Linked DNA regions of Homo sapiens: region 2 is reported to be linked to region 1. The links are microRNA targets in miRTarBase. Many come from high-throughput screens and were not tested one by one. Region 1 holds a microRNA gene; the other region holds the end of a gene's coding sequence.

The links. Region 1 holds the annotated microRNA hsa-miR-203b-3p (UUGAACUGUUAAGAACCACUGGA, at 4,502-4,524, opposite strand). A microRNA usually pairs through its seed, bases 2 to 8, with sites in the 3' UTR of a target mRNA and lowers its output. Matches are read on the target gene's strand: a 7mer-m8 pairs with bases 2 to 8, a 7mer-A1 pairs with bases 2 to 7 and ends in A, and an 8mer does both.
Region 2: miRTarBase lists KLHL7 as a target of hsa-miR-203b-3p. Seed matches in the 3' UTR shown: 8mer at 4,342-4,349, 7mer-A1 at 3,604-3,610 and 7mer-A1 at 3,496-3,502.

What each region holds. Positions count from the first base shown.
Region 1 is chr14:104,112,927-104,120,269 of GRCh38, forward strand. It overlaps MIR203B (microRNA 203b), which reads right to left and starts at 4,577; the gene lies at 4,492-4,577. It overlaps ASPG (asparaginase), which reads left to right. Exons shown (of 16, transcript NM_001080464.3): 16 at 1-2,656. MIR203A (microRNA 203a) reads left to right here and starts at 4,479; the gene lies at 4,479-4,588.
Region 2 is chr7:23,172,759-23,180,101 of GRCh38, reverse strand. KLHL7 (kelch like family member 7) reads right to left here. Exons shown (of 11, transcript NM_001031710.3): 10 at 7,057-7,154; 11 at 2,188-6,087. The coding sequence ends at 5,804. Among named protein-coding and RNA genes, the nearest start is that of NUP42, 5.6 kb to the left of the region's middle.

The sequences.
Region 1 (7,343 bases):
TGCCTTTGCCCAGGCTGGTCCCTCCTCCAGACACCCTCTGCCCATCTCCTTACCTCCTGCGCCTTCATTCTGGAGCTTGAAGTCCCCTCCCCCAGGCAGCCCTCCAACCCCTGGATGAGCATGCTGCCCCTGCTTAACTCTTTAGTCCTCACAGTCCCGTCCCAGTTGCTGTCTGGTTTTCTGTCACCCCAGTATCGCTGCACCCGGCCCCCCTCTCAGGCCAGGGCCACACCAGGGCTCCATAGGGCTGCGGAAGCCTGTGAGTGTCAAGGGGGCTTCACACTCTGGTGGTGAGCCCCTGGGGACCATTCCAGCCCCTGCTCTGCCTGAAGCTCCTGATGCAGCCTCCACCGTGAGCCAGGCCACCCTGTAAGGGAAGAGGTGAGCTGTGCCTGCCTGGTTGCACAGCCTGGGCAGGTGGGCGGGTGGGGCGGGCCCTGCTGCTGCCCGGTGGGGGTGGTGCTCCAAGGCCAAGGGCAGCCTCGTGCCTTCTTTCAGCTGGGGCTGAAATCGGGGGTGTGGACCCCTGGCCCCCATCATGTGTGCATGCACTGGCCTGGGATGGCCAGGGACTCCCTGCTGCTGCCCCCAGCCCCTGACCCCTTCTTGCTGGGTGTGAGGAGCATGGGGGCTGCCTCCCTCCAGGCCTCTCTACCTGCCCAGGTGACGGTTCCTTTTGTCCCTCTGTTTGGCTGGCCTCTGGACTGGAGCCCCAGGAGGGCAAAAGCATGACCCCAGAGCTGGCCCTTGGCACCTGGGCATACCCCAGGCTCCTCAGCCTGGTTCCCAAGCCTGGCTGGTACTGCCGCTGGCATCCTTGCTGTCCTCACCCCGACACAGGTGTGCCTGGGCCTTGCACAACAAGGTGACGCCATGCGAGCGTGGCAGGGCCGGGGAAGCCTTTGCTCCTCACCCTGGTGAGGCCCATGAGGGGCTGCAGGTGGAGGGAGGGTGGCACCGGGCCCCAGAGCCAGGAGCCCCTGCTGTCCCCGGATGGCCGAGACCCTTGGAGGGCCTTGGGAGAGGCGGTGGGGCATCTGGACAAATGCCTGGTGCAGGTGAGAAGGGGTGGGACTACCTCCGGCATCCCTGGGCTGAGCCCACCTGGTCTCCCCGGTTGCTCCTGCACACGGCAGTGCCCACCTGCTTCCCTCAGCTCCTGAGGGGCTGGGCAGAGCCTGTTGCTCACGCCACCCCACTCAGTGCTGCTCCGGGTTGTGAAAGCTGCAGGTGGCTCACGTTAGCCCACATGGCAGCACCCTCCCAGAGCAGGTGCCAACCTGCCAGTGTAGACACACCGACTGATGCCGGGGGTGAGTGTCCTGTAGTGTAGAAACGCCCACTCATCCTGCTTGTCCCGCAGAGAGCATTTGTCAAGCTGGCCTTTCTCCAACTGGGTCACTGATGGAGTTCGGCAGAGACGGCTTGGGGGCCACGGGCTGGGCAGATGGGGAGAGCTCCTCACAAGGCTGGGCAGCCAGACCCCCATTGTCAGTCCCCTCCAAACCCTCGTGGGATGTAGGGCCCTACCACAGGGAGCCCCGGGACTGGGCCAGTGTCTCAGGAGGCTGTGAAGAGTCATAGGCTTGAGTCTGGGAGCTTTCTCGGGGGCCGTTTTGTGCCCCTTGGGGAGAGGCCAGAGGGGCCCTGGGTAAGGGGACTCCTCTAGAATCACCCAGAAGTGGCAGGAGGTGCAGGGCCACTGCTCGGGGCTCCCTGGGCTCTGAGCTGGGCAGTGACCTGGCCCCAAGGCCTCTGGCTCTCTGGCGTGCAGTGGGAACAGCCGGGACAGACAGGCTTGGAGCGTTCGTGTCCTGCGCCGCGTTGGTGTGTTTCGTCCCCACTGTGCCTGTAGGAGGGCACCGGGTCCCCGTCTATCCTACTTCATGGCTGAGGAAGCTAAGGCACAGAGTGGCCCCGTCCTGCGCCCAGGGCTCTGCGTTGGCACAGGGCAGAGCTGGGCTGTGAATCAGGGCCGCCTTGTCTCTTGCTGTGGTGTGAGGCTGTGGGAGACTCAGGAATGAGGCACAGCCAGGTGCCCAGTGCCCGTGGGACCCGCCTCCCCACAGTGGGGTGGCGCCGCTCACACCTGGTAATTTCACGCTGGGGGAGGCCTTGGTTCCTATAGCCCATCTCGAATCACCTGGATCCCAGGGCTATCTCTGGGGAACATCTCCTCTCCATCACGACTACTGTCTTTTTCACCAGCATTTTCTATCCTAAAATCAGACTCCTCAGCTGAGGGCCCTCCAGGACCGCCCTTCCCCAGCTGGAGGTAACCAGATTTCTCGTGTATGCTAGGAAGTTCCCCTTCTGGTCACACCTCAATATTTCCTGCTGCTGGTGGGAACTGCAGGTGCTTGTACTTGTCACCTTCTCCCCGTCCTCTCTCGTCAGTTCCCTTGGATGCTGGACACGGGAGCCACCTGGGCGAGGGGAGCCCATCCAAGTGGCTGTGCGTCGGGAAGAGTCTGCCCAGGACTGGGCTAGACCAGAACTTAGAATTAAGGAGTGGTGGCCAGGCTTGGTGGCTCACACCTGCAATCCCAGCACTTTGGGAGGCCGAGGCGGGTGGATAGCTTGAGCCTAGGAGTTTGAGAACAGCCAACATGGCGAAACTCTGTCTCTTAAAAAATAAATAAAAACATTAGCCAGGTGTGGTGGTTTGTGTCTGTGGTCCCAGCTACTTGGGAGGCTGAGGTGGGAGAATCGCTTGAACTGGGAAGATGGAGGTTGCAGCGAGCCAAGATCGCACCACTGCACTCCAGCCTGGGCAACACAGCAAGACTAGGTCTCAAAAAAAAAGAAAAAAAAAAAGAAAAGAAGAGAGGTGGGTTCTTCTTGCCCATGCAGTTGTGTTGGGGGAGGAGCTCCCAAGCTCCTGTTCTTGATCTCAAGCTCCCCTATGCCCACTTCCATCCCCACCCCCATGCCGCAGCCCCTCGGACTCCACACCCAGGCACTGAGACCCACAGATGCAGCGATGGCAAGGCCTGTCATCCCTTCTCTACCACCAAGAGCTGTGCAATCCCCAGAAGTCACTGTCCCTCCCTGAGCCTCAGTTTCCCCAACTGCAAAATGAAAATAACAAAACCTTTCTGATTCCCTTTCCAGGGTGGCTGCGGTGGTTGAGCCACACGCGGCCCATGTGGAAATGTCTGGGGGGTCCCTCAGATCTGGTGGCTGTGTTCTGGTCTGGGGCTCACCTTGGCTCCTGAGCACTTGGCTCCTGGCTGGCTGGGCGGGTGGTGGGATGGCGTGTCACCGCCCTGCACTGGAATGAATGGTCACCACCCTGCTGCCCAACCCCATACAGACACACTAATGGCTCCAGACTTGGGGCAAGTGCTGAAGGGGGCTCTAGGGTATTTCCTAGAGCCTGAGCCCTCCCCTCAGCTGCCATGTTCTGCTGAAGCAGAGTCCCTGGGAGGCGCCACTGGTCAGGCCTGGACACCTCCAGGTGACTAAGTGGGTAGGACCGGCAGGGCCAGCTGCGCCAGGACGTTCGGGGCTGGGCTGTGAGTGGGGGGAGCGAGGCTCAGGCCCTTGCTGCGTGAGGGGGTAGGGCGTCCCTCCCCCCGCGTGGGAAATGAGGAGGCAGGTACGGGGCTACCCCTGTGGGCTGCGGGGTGGGGGTTCAGGGTCTGAGAAGCAGAAACCTCCCTCCCTCCAGTTTCACTTTCTCTTTACCCCTCCCCTTCCCCCTCCCACGAAGTTCCCTTTGAAGTGAGAGGGGCTGGGGTGGGTGTGTCCAGCCCAGCCCCCACACCCACCGGAGAGCTAGCGCGGCCCTGGGCTCCTGTCGGGCGCTGGTCCTCACCTGTTCCGGCCACCCTGGGCCTCGACCCGGCCAAGGTGGAGCCCCGGGCCCTCCGTGCGCCCGAGCACCCCCGGCCCAGACGAGACGGTTCGGGCGTGGCCCGGCGGGGACCCAGAACCCGGGAGGCCAGGTGCGCCCAGGCCAGGCGCTGGAGGCTGGGGCGCCGGATGGGGCGGGGCGGCCGCTGAGTCAGGGCCACCCCCGCGCGGGCGCGCGGAGCAGGTCCCCGGGCCGTGGAGGATCAGTCGCGGGACCTATGGGCCCGGGAGCCGCCCCGCCCGGAAAAACCGGTCGGGCCAGCGCGGCGCGGGCACATTCCGGCGCCGGGAAGGGCGGCTGCGCCGCATAAAAGGCGCCGCCGCGCTGGCCACCGCCGCTCGGAGCTCAGCCGCCCTGCCACGCGGGGCCCGCGGGACGAGGGGACGCCGGGGCCAGCGAGGACGCGGCGGGGCTGGGCTTGGCGGCTGGGATCCCCCAGCGCCAGGCGAGGGCGTCTAAGGCGTCCGGTACGGCGTCGGGGCCGGGTGGCTGCAGCAGGGCAGGGGGTGCGCGACCAGCGGGGATCTGGGCGCAGGGGCCGGTCCCCGGGATCCGCAGGCGACGCGGGCGGTCCCAAGGGCGTCGGGGGCTCCTCTCTCCGCAGCTCGGCGAACCGACGGTGTTGGGGACTCGCGCGCTGGGTCCAGTGGTTCTTAACAGTTCAACAGTTCTGTAGCGCAATTGTGAAATGTTTAGGACCACTAGACCCGGCGGGCGCGGCGACAGCGACGGAGCGTCCCACGCGCGGCCTGGAGTCAGAGTCACAGTCAGGGGTGCGCCGGCGACCAATCCAGGGGAGCCCACGGACCGGCTCCGCGCTCCAGGTCGGCCGCCCCATGCGCCGCGCCCCGCAGTCCCCAGGGCCTGGCTGGCTCCACCTGCTGCCAGGGAAGACCCTCGGCCGGAGAGCCAAGTGCTGCTGGGAGGTGGCCGGGCGTGGCCGGGCTGTGCTGTGGGAACCGCTGGGTGGGGGCGCGCTGGGTTGCCCACGCTCCTGGCGCGCTGCCGGCCTGGAGACGCCGCCGCCGCCCTCTTGCACCCCGAGGGCCCGCACCTCGAAACTCCGTGGAATTCCCAGCGAGGAACTGGCGGTGGGCCCGTAGGGTTGAGGAGCGCTCCTTGCCCTGGGCTTCCTGGGAGCTGCCCATCAGGCTGCCGGCAGCCGCACCCTGCTGGGCGGCCGATGGTTCCCGCTGCCGGCTCCCCGGAGCGTCTCCACTCACTGAGGCCTTAGGGAGCGCTGCGCGGCTCCTACGAGTGCGCGCTAAACTCGTGAAGGACCTCGAGGCACAGGAACTGGGGGTGGGGAGGAAGTTTGCAGACTACACCCAGGTAGAGGAGAAGCGGCGCCCATGATGACAGGTGCCTTCGCCGGAGCCTCCCTGGAACCTCGTGGTAGCTAGCGCCCACAGGAGAGGTGTGCGCGTCAATCTGCGTGTGAAGCCCCGGGCGGCCCTGGGAGGGACTCAGCAAAGGGTCGAATCTGTCCCCACCTCCAGCCAGGGGCCGGGGTCTTCTGCCTGGTGCTGCCTGGCCTGCTGTGTCCTCTGGGGTGGAGGGTCCCCCTCCAGTCCCCACCTCCTCACCCAGTGTTTAGAGAGCTGCGGGGAGTCCTGGGAGATGGGTCAGACAGGCCTGGGTTTGAGGCCTGCTAGGGTGGCCTTGGGCCAGTCACCTGCCCTCTCTGAGCCCGACCTGCACACATAGGGGGTTGATGTGAGGAGACAGGAGGTGACTGTGGAGGGCTGTTCCAGAAGAGGGCCAGCAGCAGGACAGCAAGGTCCCCTGGCCACCCAGGTGGGGGGAGTGGAGTTCCCGGGAGAGCATCCACCACTGGCCAGTGCCTCCTCTGTTGCTCAGCAAATGCCATTGTGGCCACCTCTCAGGATCTGGCTTCAGAGCTTGGGGCCGTGGGAGCGCCCAGTGGGTCTGTGGCATCGGAGGGGTTGGAGTGTCTTCCCCAGCTGCTGCCTGCTGACCACCGCAGCCCCCTGTAGCCATTTCATTTTACAAGCACGTTCCCCCGTGCCCTCTGCATGGGCCCTCAGCCCTCAGCAGCCCCGTGAGAGGGGCTGAGGCTCAGGTGGGAGATGGCGGCTGTGTCCCTGTTCTGCGGCTTGGAGGCATTCTGTCCGGTGTGCGTCTGTACAATTTAGACTGATGACAATAAACATGTTCCAAAGCATCGCTGTGTCCCTGGGGTGCTTGTCCTTTTCCCCCAGGCCTCAGCGTGGTTTCTCCCTTGAAAGCAAGCCAGCCTTTTCCTTCTAATCTCAGAGAAGCAGAAATGAGGATGGTTGGTGGAGGGGCAGTGGCCTGGTCCTTACCCAAGACCCTCCCTCAACTCTGCCTCTGGCACTTTGGTCTCCAGGGAAGCCCCCAGCCTCTGCCACCAGCTTTCTCGTTGCAGTGACCTCCCCTGGGCCACTGGGCCAGACCCCCTCCCTCGGGTTTGAGCTGCACTGCCTCAAGGAGCCAGGCTGGGGAAAGGGCTTGGCTCCCAGGGGCCCCACTTTCAGGGGCTCCAGCCTGCTCCCACTCCCCCCACTCACCACAACACTGCTCCCTTGGCTGGCTCCCACTCATTCCCGCTGGAGCCTGTAGGCTGGCCCTGGGGACCTGGCCAGGAGAATGGGCAAGGTGGGAGGGTTGAGGGATTGAAGAGACAGAGGCACCTTCCTCCACCCTCCCTGCCTCTGGCACAGGGGACCGAGAGTCTGTCGTGCATTCAAACCCCAGCTCTATGCCTACAAGCAAGTGACCTTGGCAAGTCCCTTATCCCCTCGGAGGACCTGTTTCTTCCTTCTGTAGGATGACGTGGAGCTCGCTGGAGGTTCCCCTGACATGATGCAGCACACTTCCTGAGTGCTCAGCAGGGCAGAGCTCAAGCTGTCACTGGAGCTGATGTGGTGGGAGGGCCAGTGGGGGATCCTTGAAGAGGCCGAATTTCAGCCAGGGCCTCGGAGGACCAATGGAAGGCCTCAGGTGGCAATGAGGTGTGGTCTTACAACAGGCCCCTACTTGGTCCCTGGGGACACCAGGAGGACAGGCCCCTACTTTGCTGAGACTAGACCTGTGCTTCCTGGCACCCCAGCCCCTCCACTCCGGCCTCTCCAGCCTCTGCCCCTGACCCAGGTGGAGGATGGCTCCTCGGGGTCCATTCCTTCAGCCATGGAATTCCTGAAGGGAAGCTGGGCACGTGGGGCTCCTGGGCTGCTGGTGGAGACACATGCCACCTCTACACAGGGGAGTGTGAACAGAGGCAGATGCAACTTCTGGGTGGAACTGGGGCACTGTGGTGCTGAGACGTGCCGACTGTGCTGCTGGAGGGCCACGCCGGGGCAGGGCAAAGCATCCCTGCATGAGGCCGACCCACCTGTCCAGGTGTGCCTGCGTGTTTCCTGATTTGGCACCGAAACGTTCTTGGAATCTTCTGAGTCTGGGGCAAACTGGGACTGCTGATCACCCTACGTGGGACCAGCTC
Region 2 (7,343 bases), not on the chromosome of region 1:
TTGTCCTGTTACCTGTAATGCTCAATGGATTACTTGCTTAAGGTGGTGTCTGCCAAGCTGCTCTACCATAAAGTTATTCTTTTCCTTTTTGTTATTAATAAGAATTTTGTGGGGAGGTACTTTGAAAGTATATAAAAATCTGATTGTTCATCCAACTTTTAGCTCATTCACTTATTTATTTATATCAGTATGGACTCATGATTTCCAATGTTATTCAATGGGTTATAATCCATTACTATCATTATTTATTTTGATGCTCAGATCATCTCCAATTTGGCCAATGGGACCCCCTTTAAGCTCCTTTACACATTCGAAAAAGGAGAAAAAAAAATTCCCCATGATTACTTGAGCACTTTTTTACTTTCTGGTGCAGAGATGTTCCAGGCTCATTTTTACATTCTCTACTCCAGTCCTGAAATCAGTTATTTCTCCAGGGGTCCTTTTGGTGCTGCTTAGAAACCAAGATCTGAGCTTTAATGTGCTTATTGCTACTGGGATGTCTTTGCTGTCATGAACATTGCTGGGAAATACATATGTATAAACAAACACGAACATTTACATCAAACATTTCTATATTTTATATATTAAAACTATTATGCCTTCTATGTCAAAGACTATGAAAAAAAGAAAAAAACTTGAGTTCACACTGATAATCTCCAATTTCAATCCAAAATCACATGATTCATTTTATTTTCCTCTATTTTTAACTCCATTGATAACAAGAAACTTGGCTTTCATTAACCTTAGTATATTTATTTTATTACCACCTTGTGTTAACCAGTATTGCTTTGTAGCCACTGACTTCTCATTCCTGCACATGTCAGCATGTGTAAGGACTTTGCTGGGATCAAATACCTAAAATAATACCAGTGGTGACTGAAACTTAAGTGAGGGTAAGCCCAGTGCTTGGTGAAGGTAGAGAGGGGCAAGGCCAGAATGCCGGTTGAGACTGTCTAGGTGGAGTGTGTGTGAGACAATGAGAGCCTAGGGCTTGCAGGACTTGGTAGTGATCGGTTTGGTGATGGGTATATATAGGTGGAAATCAGGAGAGTGGGGTTACAGGAAGGAAACTTCTGATTTCTTCAAGATGGCAGAGGAAAAATACTGCTGCCTCCCCTTCCAATTGGATGAGGCAACTGTCTCGACTTGATAGGAGATAGGATTCCTCCCCAATAAAAAGGAATGAGAGACACTTCAGATTCTAGGACATCAGGTACAGAGAGGGCTTATGCTTATTGAATGGTGAGTCAAACATCCCAGAAAAATACCTATGGATCTCTTATGGACTAGCAACAAAAATAGTTGGCCATCTCCTCATCATATAATGAAGTTCATTGATTAAGCTCACCCTTGTACCCCTGAATTATCAATTTTCAGATGTCTCATTTAAATCCAAATGCACAGTCAGGGACTAGACATTTGAAGGCAGATGCCAACAGGAAAGAGCAAAGCAAAGAAACAGAAAAAGAAGTTAGAGGAAACAAAAACACTAAAATATTTTTAAAATTTAAAGAAACTAAAATATCATCAGAGAGGATAACATGAAACAAGAATGGCATACTATATAAAAGAACAATTATAGAAATAAAGTACTCTTGGAAAACGTAGATAGTGGGAACAAATTAAAGAAGGTTAGAAGATAAAGTCTGAGGGAATTTCTATAAGATTCAAACTAGATCTTGAACCCCATTTTAAATCTGTTATGAGAGAGGGCGTAAAGCTCTGGAGAGTAAAAAGATTTCTAGTTAATAAGGGCAACATTTCAAACAATTTCCCAGCACAGACTTTTTTAAATAAAATTTTTATTTTTTCTAAAGTAGTGTGAATCATCTTGGGAAGGAGGAAGGTGAGAAAGATAAAAGTGGATTCAAGCTTTTTGAAGTCTTTTGAGGCAACTGTAAAGAGGGAGGAGGCTATTTAAAGGAAGGATTTATCAAACGCTGAATGATGCCACCTGTAAAATGTCCTTTCATTAAAAGAACAGATTATTTGGACTTAAGGGTCCAAATAATGACTCTCAGTGAGAGCTGGTTTGGTGCCATGTGGGAGTAAATTGGATTTTCTCAAGTCTTTGGTATAACCTTAGAAAGCAAAATTTCGTCTAAATACCTCCTTTACCCATGCATATGTAGCAAATCCAAAATTTTTGCTGTTAACAGTATATATGGCAAAAGGAATATAGACTGCTTGGTGGAATAATTGTTTATTAAACGGCTGATTTTGATTTTGTTAGCAATATTGTCATGTCAAAATAATTCATGACTTAAAATTTTCATGGGATGATATGTCAAGTTTTTGCCAGCTGGACCACAAAGTCACAAGTATATGTTTTGTTTTGTTTTTTTCAAATAGCAACAATTTTTTTAAGATGCTAAACTTTTCTGACCGAATTGTGATTTTTGAAAGCATAAACTTACTTTGTCATCAAAATAATATCATTGCAAAGGATATAACATTAACTTATCAAATGTCTACTAAAAAGCAAGCAGAGCACTTTACAGGACAGGGAGTTTTGGGCAACAAAATAGAAAATGTGCTTGTCAGTATGGTGAGTGTACTTTTACGCACTATCCTGATATTGACAATTCTGTAGAAATTTCCAAGGCAGAAAAAGACACTAATTGGGAATTATGATACAGATTACTAAGGAAAAAAACCACTTCATTATAATCCACATCAAACCTGTGTATGTATTTACTATAGTGTGTTCTAGTCAATTGACATAGCCTAAAAGGAAATGCTGGTGTACTTAAAATATCTTAGACAGGTACTGTATATTCTACATAGGAGATTGTCAAATTATATAGCTATATTGTAATATAATAAATGGATATTTCACTCTCAAAAAATTAAACTAGCCACATTTTTCAATAGAGTGCAAAATTGAAAACCCTACTAAAAATGTTCAGAATAATCAAATCTAGAGACAGAAAGTAGATTAGTGGTTGCCTAGGGCTATGGTGTTTGGGAGGTTTTCTGTGTTGAACAGCATCTCCCCAAATTCATGTCTATCCAGAAGCTCAGAATGTGTCCTCGTTTGGAAATGGGGTCTTTACAGGTGTAATTAAAATAAGGTCATACTGGATTGCGGGCCCTATGTTGTCCTTTTTTTGTTTGTATTTTGCTTTGAGAAGGTGTCTTGCTCTGTCACCCAGGCTGGAATGAAGTGGCGCAATCTCAGCTCACTGCAACCTCTGCCTCCCAGGTTCAAGCAATTCTCCTACCTCAGCCTCCTGAGTAGCTGGGACTACAGGTGCACACCACCATACCTGGCTAATTTTTGTATTTTTAGTAGAGACGGGGTTTTGGCATGTTGTCCAGGCTGGTCTCAAACTCCTGACCTCAGGTAATCCACCCGCCTCGGCCTCCCAAAGTGCTGGGATTAAGGGCGTGAGACACAGCGCCCAGCTTTTTTTTTTTTTTTTTTAATGAGACAGGGTCTCAGTCTGTCACCCAGGCTGGAGTGCAGTGGCACAATCATAGCTCACTACATCCTTGAACTCCTGGGCTCAAGTGATCCTCCCACCTCAGCCTTCTGAGTAGCTAGAACTGCAGGTATATACCACACCTGCTAACTTTTTATTTTTTTGTAGAGACAGGGTCTTGAACTCCTAGCCTCAAGTGATCCTACTGCCTCCACCTCCCAAAGTGTTGAAATTACCGGCCTGAGCCACTGTGTCTGGCTCCTATGTTGTCCTTATAAGAACACCATGTGAAGATACAGAGACACACAGGGAAAAAGCCCATGCGAAGACAGAGACAGAGACTGAAGTGCTGCAGCTACAAGCCAAAGAATGCTGAGGATTGCTGGCAACCACCAGAAGCTAGGGGAGAGGCATGTGTGGTTTCTGCTGCAGACCCTCCAGAAGGAACTAACCCTGCTGACAACTTGATTTAGGAGTGCTGGCTTCCTGAATTGTGAGAGAATAAATTTCTGTTCTTTAAAGCCACCAAGTTTGCAGTAGTTTGTTATGGTAGCCCTAGGAAATACAGGGGCGTTGGGGGAAATAGGGAACCATTGCTAATCAGTACAAGGTTTCTTTTTGGGGTGATGAAAATGTTCTAAAATTGTGGTGATGGTTGCGTAACTCTGTGGATATATTAAAAACCACTGAATAATACATTTTTTTTTTTTTTTTTTTTTTTTTAGTCTTGCTCTGTTGCCCAGGCTGGGGTGCAGTGGCTTGATCTCAGCTCACTGCAACCTCTGCCTGTCAGGTTCAAGCAATCCTCCTGCCTCAGTCTCCTGAATAGCTGGGATTACAAGTGCACACCACCAGGCCTGGCTAATTTTTGTATTTTTAGTAGAGACGGGGTCTCATCATGTTGGCCAGGGTGGTCTTGAACTGCTGACCTCAAATGATCTACCCACCTTGGCCTCCCAAAGTGCTGGGATTACAGGCGTGAGCCACTGTGCCTGGCCTGAATAGTATACTTTAAATGGTGAATTGTATGGTATGTGAATTATATCTCAATAAAGCTGTACATTAAAAAACCCTACACAAATAGAAATATACCTATCATTATGTTTTTCCTAATTCCTTTTTGATTTAAACATTTTTAGGGTTTAAGACTATTATAACCTCTATATAAAGAAAACTGAAAATTAAGAGACACTGGTTCACAAATTCTAAAAACAACCATTACCTAAAATACTTGAAGAACAAACTGAGTGGCCTATTTTAAGTTAAAAAATATTTAATATTATCAGATAAAAACATTGATTGTGACAGCTTTACATGTTTCATTCCATACACAGTGAAAAAGGCAAAGTATTACTAGGAAGGAAATGAGTAGTTGGGTTTGTAAAAGATTTATTGATCACATAAAAGCAATGAATAGGAGATGACATATATCTAACTCATGATTACAAAACTTTTAGAGACAACTAGGTTAAATATTTCATGTTTTGGCTAAGGGAAAAGAATTCATGATCTCGTTAAAGAAGTTCAAAGTCAACACTGATATTGTACAACTACCAGTGCTTTTCTAATGATCTAGAAATTTGCTATAAATAGCTTTACTTTTTGCTAGTTAATCACTTACTATGATTGGGTTTTATTTAACAGTGAGGACTAAAGAGGCAGAATCCTTTTTTAACCACTGGATAAAACAGAGACATAAATTAATGATGGGTGCTAAGCTTTACATTTTATGTTAAAAAGATGGAATATATTTAAGTGGATTGAATATATTTCATGAGGAGTTGGACATATTAAACCCCCAAATCTGTTTAGGAAGTTTTGTGAGAAAGTGTGTATATGCCTTGACTCACTCTGGCTTACTTTTAAAATGGAATACATTTGGCACTAAATAAAATAAATAGACAAGCAAACTGTGAGACTAAGCTGCTCCATCTGAGTTGCCCATCTTGACTTACAATTCATACTATTTCTTAGTTCTTGACTGAGCACAAACAGACCTAACCGTATAGCACTTCTGTGATGCATGAAAATAGAATCTAGAGCTAAGATACTGCGCTTCACTGATGAGCCAATCTTCTATTCTGCCAAAATCATAGTTACAAATGTGAAATTCATTCAAGAAATTCACATTTTTAACAAATGCTTATACTTTTTCAAGTTTTCTTGCTAGATATGTTCTTGGTTTTGTGGCCAGCTAAAATATGATCTTTGAATTAAGGAAATCCATATAAAAGAAACATCTATTTTATAGGAACCTCATTTCACTTGAAACTTTCTTTACCAAAACACCAAACCAAAACTTTGTCACCAAACTCCTGGAACAAAGCACTGGTGGCTATATTTTAGAGTCTCTGATGAGTCTGAAGTCCACTCATTTTTCATGTTTCAAGGGTCTCTTCATTTGCTCCACAAGTATCGACAACACAAATTAAACAACTTGTGACTGGAAAAGCACGAACTTTGGAGTTGGCAACCCATTTGTCTGTTTCGGTATTATATTCGAGAATGTGTCCTAATCGACCAACACCCTGAAAACCAGCCAAGACATAAACTATAGAGCCAACTGCTGCACATTTCACTGTTACACCCTTCCATGGCATTGGTGAGACCATCTTCCATTCGTTCAACTTAATATCGTAATATTCCACATTGTCCAGACCACCTTCAAAAGAATAAAACATGAACAACATGAAAAACTATATCAACAATTCTAAGGTTTCTTAAAGTAATAACTTTTTGTATTTTTCCAATATTTTATTGTGAAAAATGTCAAACACACAGAAAAACTGTAATAATTTTACAGTGAATGTCCACATAGCCACCACCTAAATTCTTACTCTTAACACAATAGACATTTAATATTTCTTTTTAAATATTGATTTTTTTCTACAAAATTAAACATGTTTTATCTATTCTGGAAAAATGCAAAATAAACCAATCGGTGATTTCCCCTCTGATTAACTTTGATTATAATTACTCAAATGTCCTTCTTTTTCCTCCTTTTAGCACTTTATGGAAAATAGCAATGGACAGGGACAGAAGAAGGAAAAGAAGTTACTGGTACACTTAAGTGATGCTTAAAGTACTGACTAAATTGAAGCTTGTGTCTAGATTCAGTTCCGACTCCCTTTCATTTAAGACAATTATTTAAGATTCTTTAGTACATTATTTATGAAAACAAAATGCCAAATTTAGTCATTTAAAAATTACAATATTGATATTTTCATGCAATGTTTAAAAATATTTAGGAAACTTTACCATTTAGGACCTGGATACAAGCCTTAAAACTTGTATTTAAAAAGTTTTTAAAGGTTTTTTAAAGTTCAAATATTTCTATTGCTCAATAGTTCTTAAGCTGGTGCGACATCATTCCCCAGGAGGTATCTGGGAATGTATAGGAGCCATCTAAAATTGTCACAATGACTGGTGACTACTGCGACATTTCATAAACAGGAATGTTTAACATCCTGCGATATTTTATCAAGTATGTTAATTCCCAGAAACTATAAAAATAGATATAATAATATACATGGTAAATGCTTCTATCTAGATTTTTAAAAATGCTTCAATAATTTAAGGAAGTATCAGCAAACTCATCAGGAAAGTGGAACAGTGAATTAACATCACATACCTAAACCATTCTGACCACCCACAGCAAATATCTTGTCTTTTACAAATACCAGCCCATGATTCTTCCTGGCTTCAATCATTGGACACAGCTCAGTCCATCTGAAAAAATTAAAGTTTTTAGTGTGCTTGTTTACAGGAAGTAAAAGAACTCATACTAATGAGAAAGGTCTATTATTCTAATTAAGTGCTCATTTACTACTCACATATGTGTACATATACGCACAAAATGTCTAGAAGGGTAGAAAACAAAAGTTGAACAATGATTATGGGTAATTTATTAATACACGG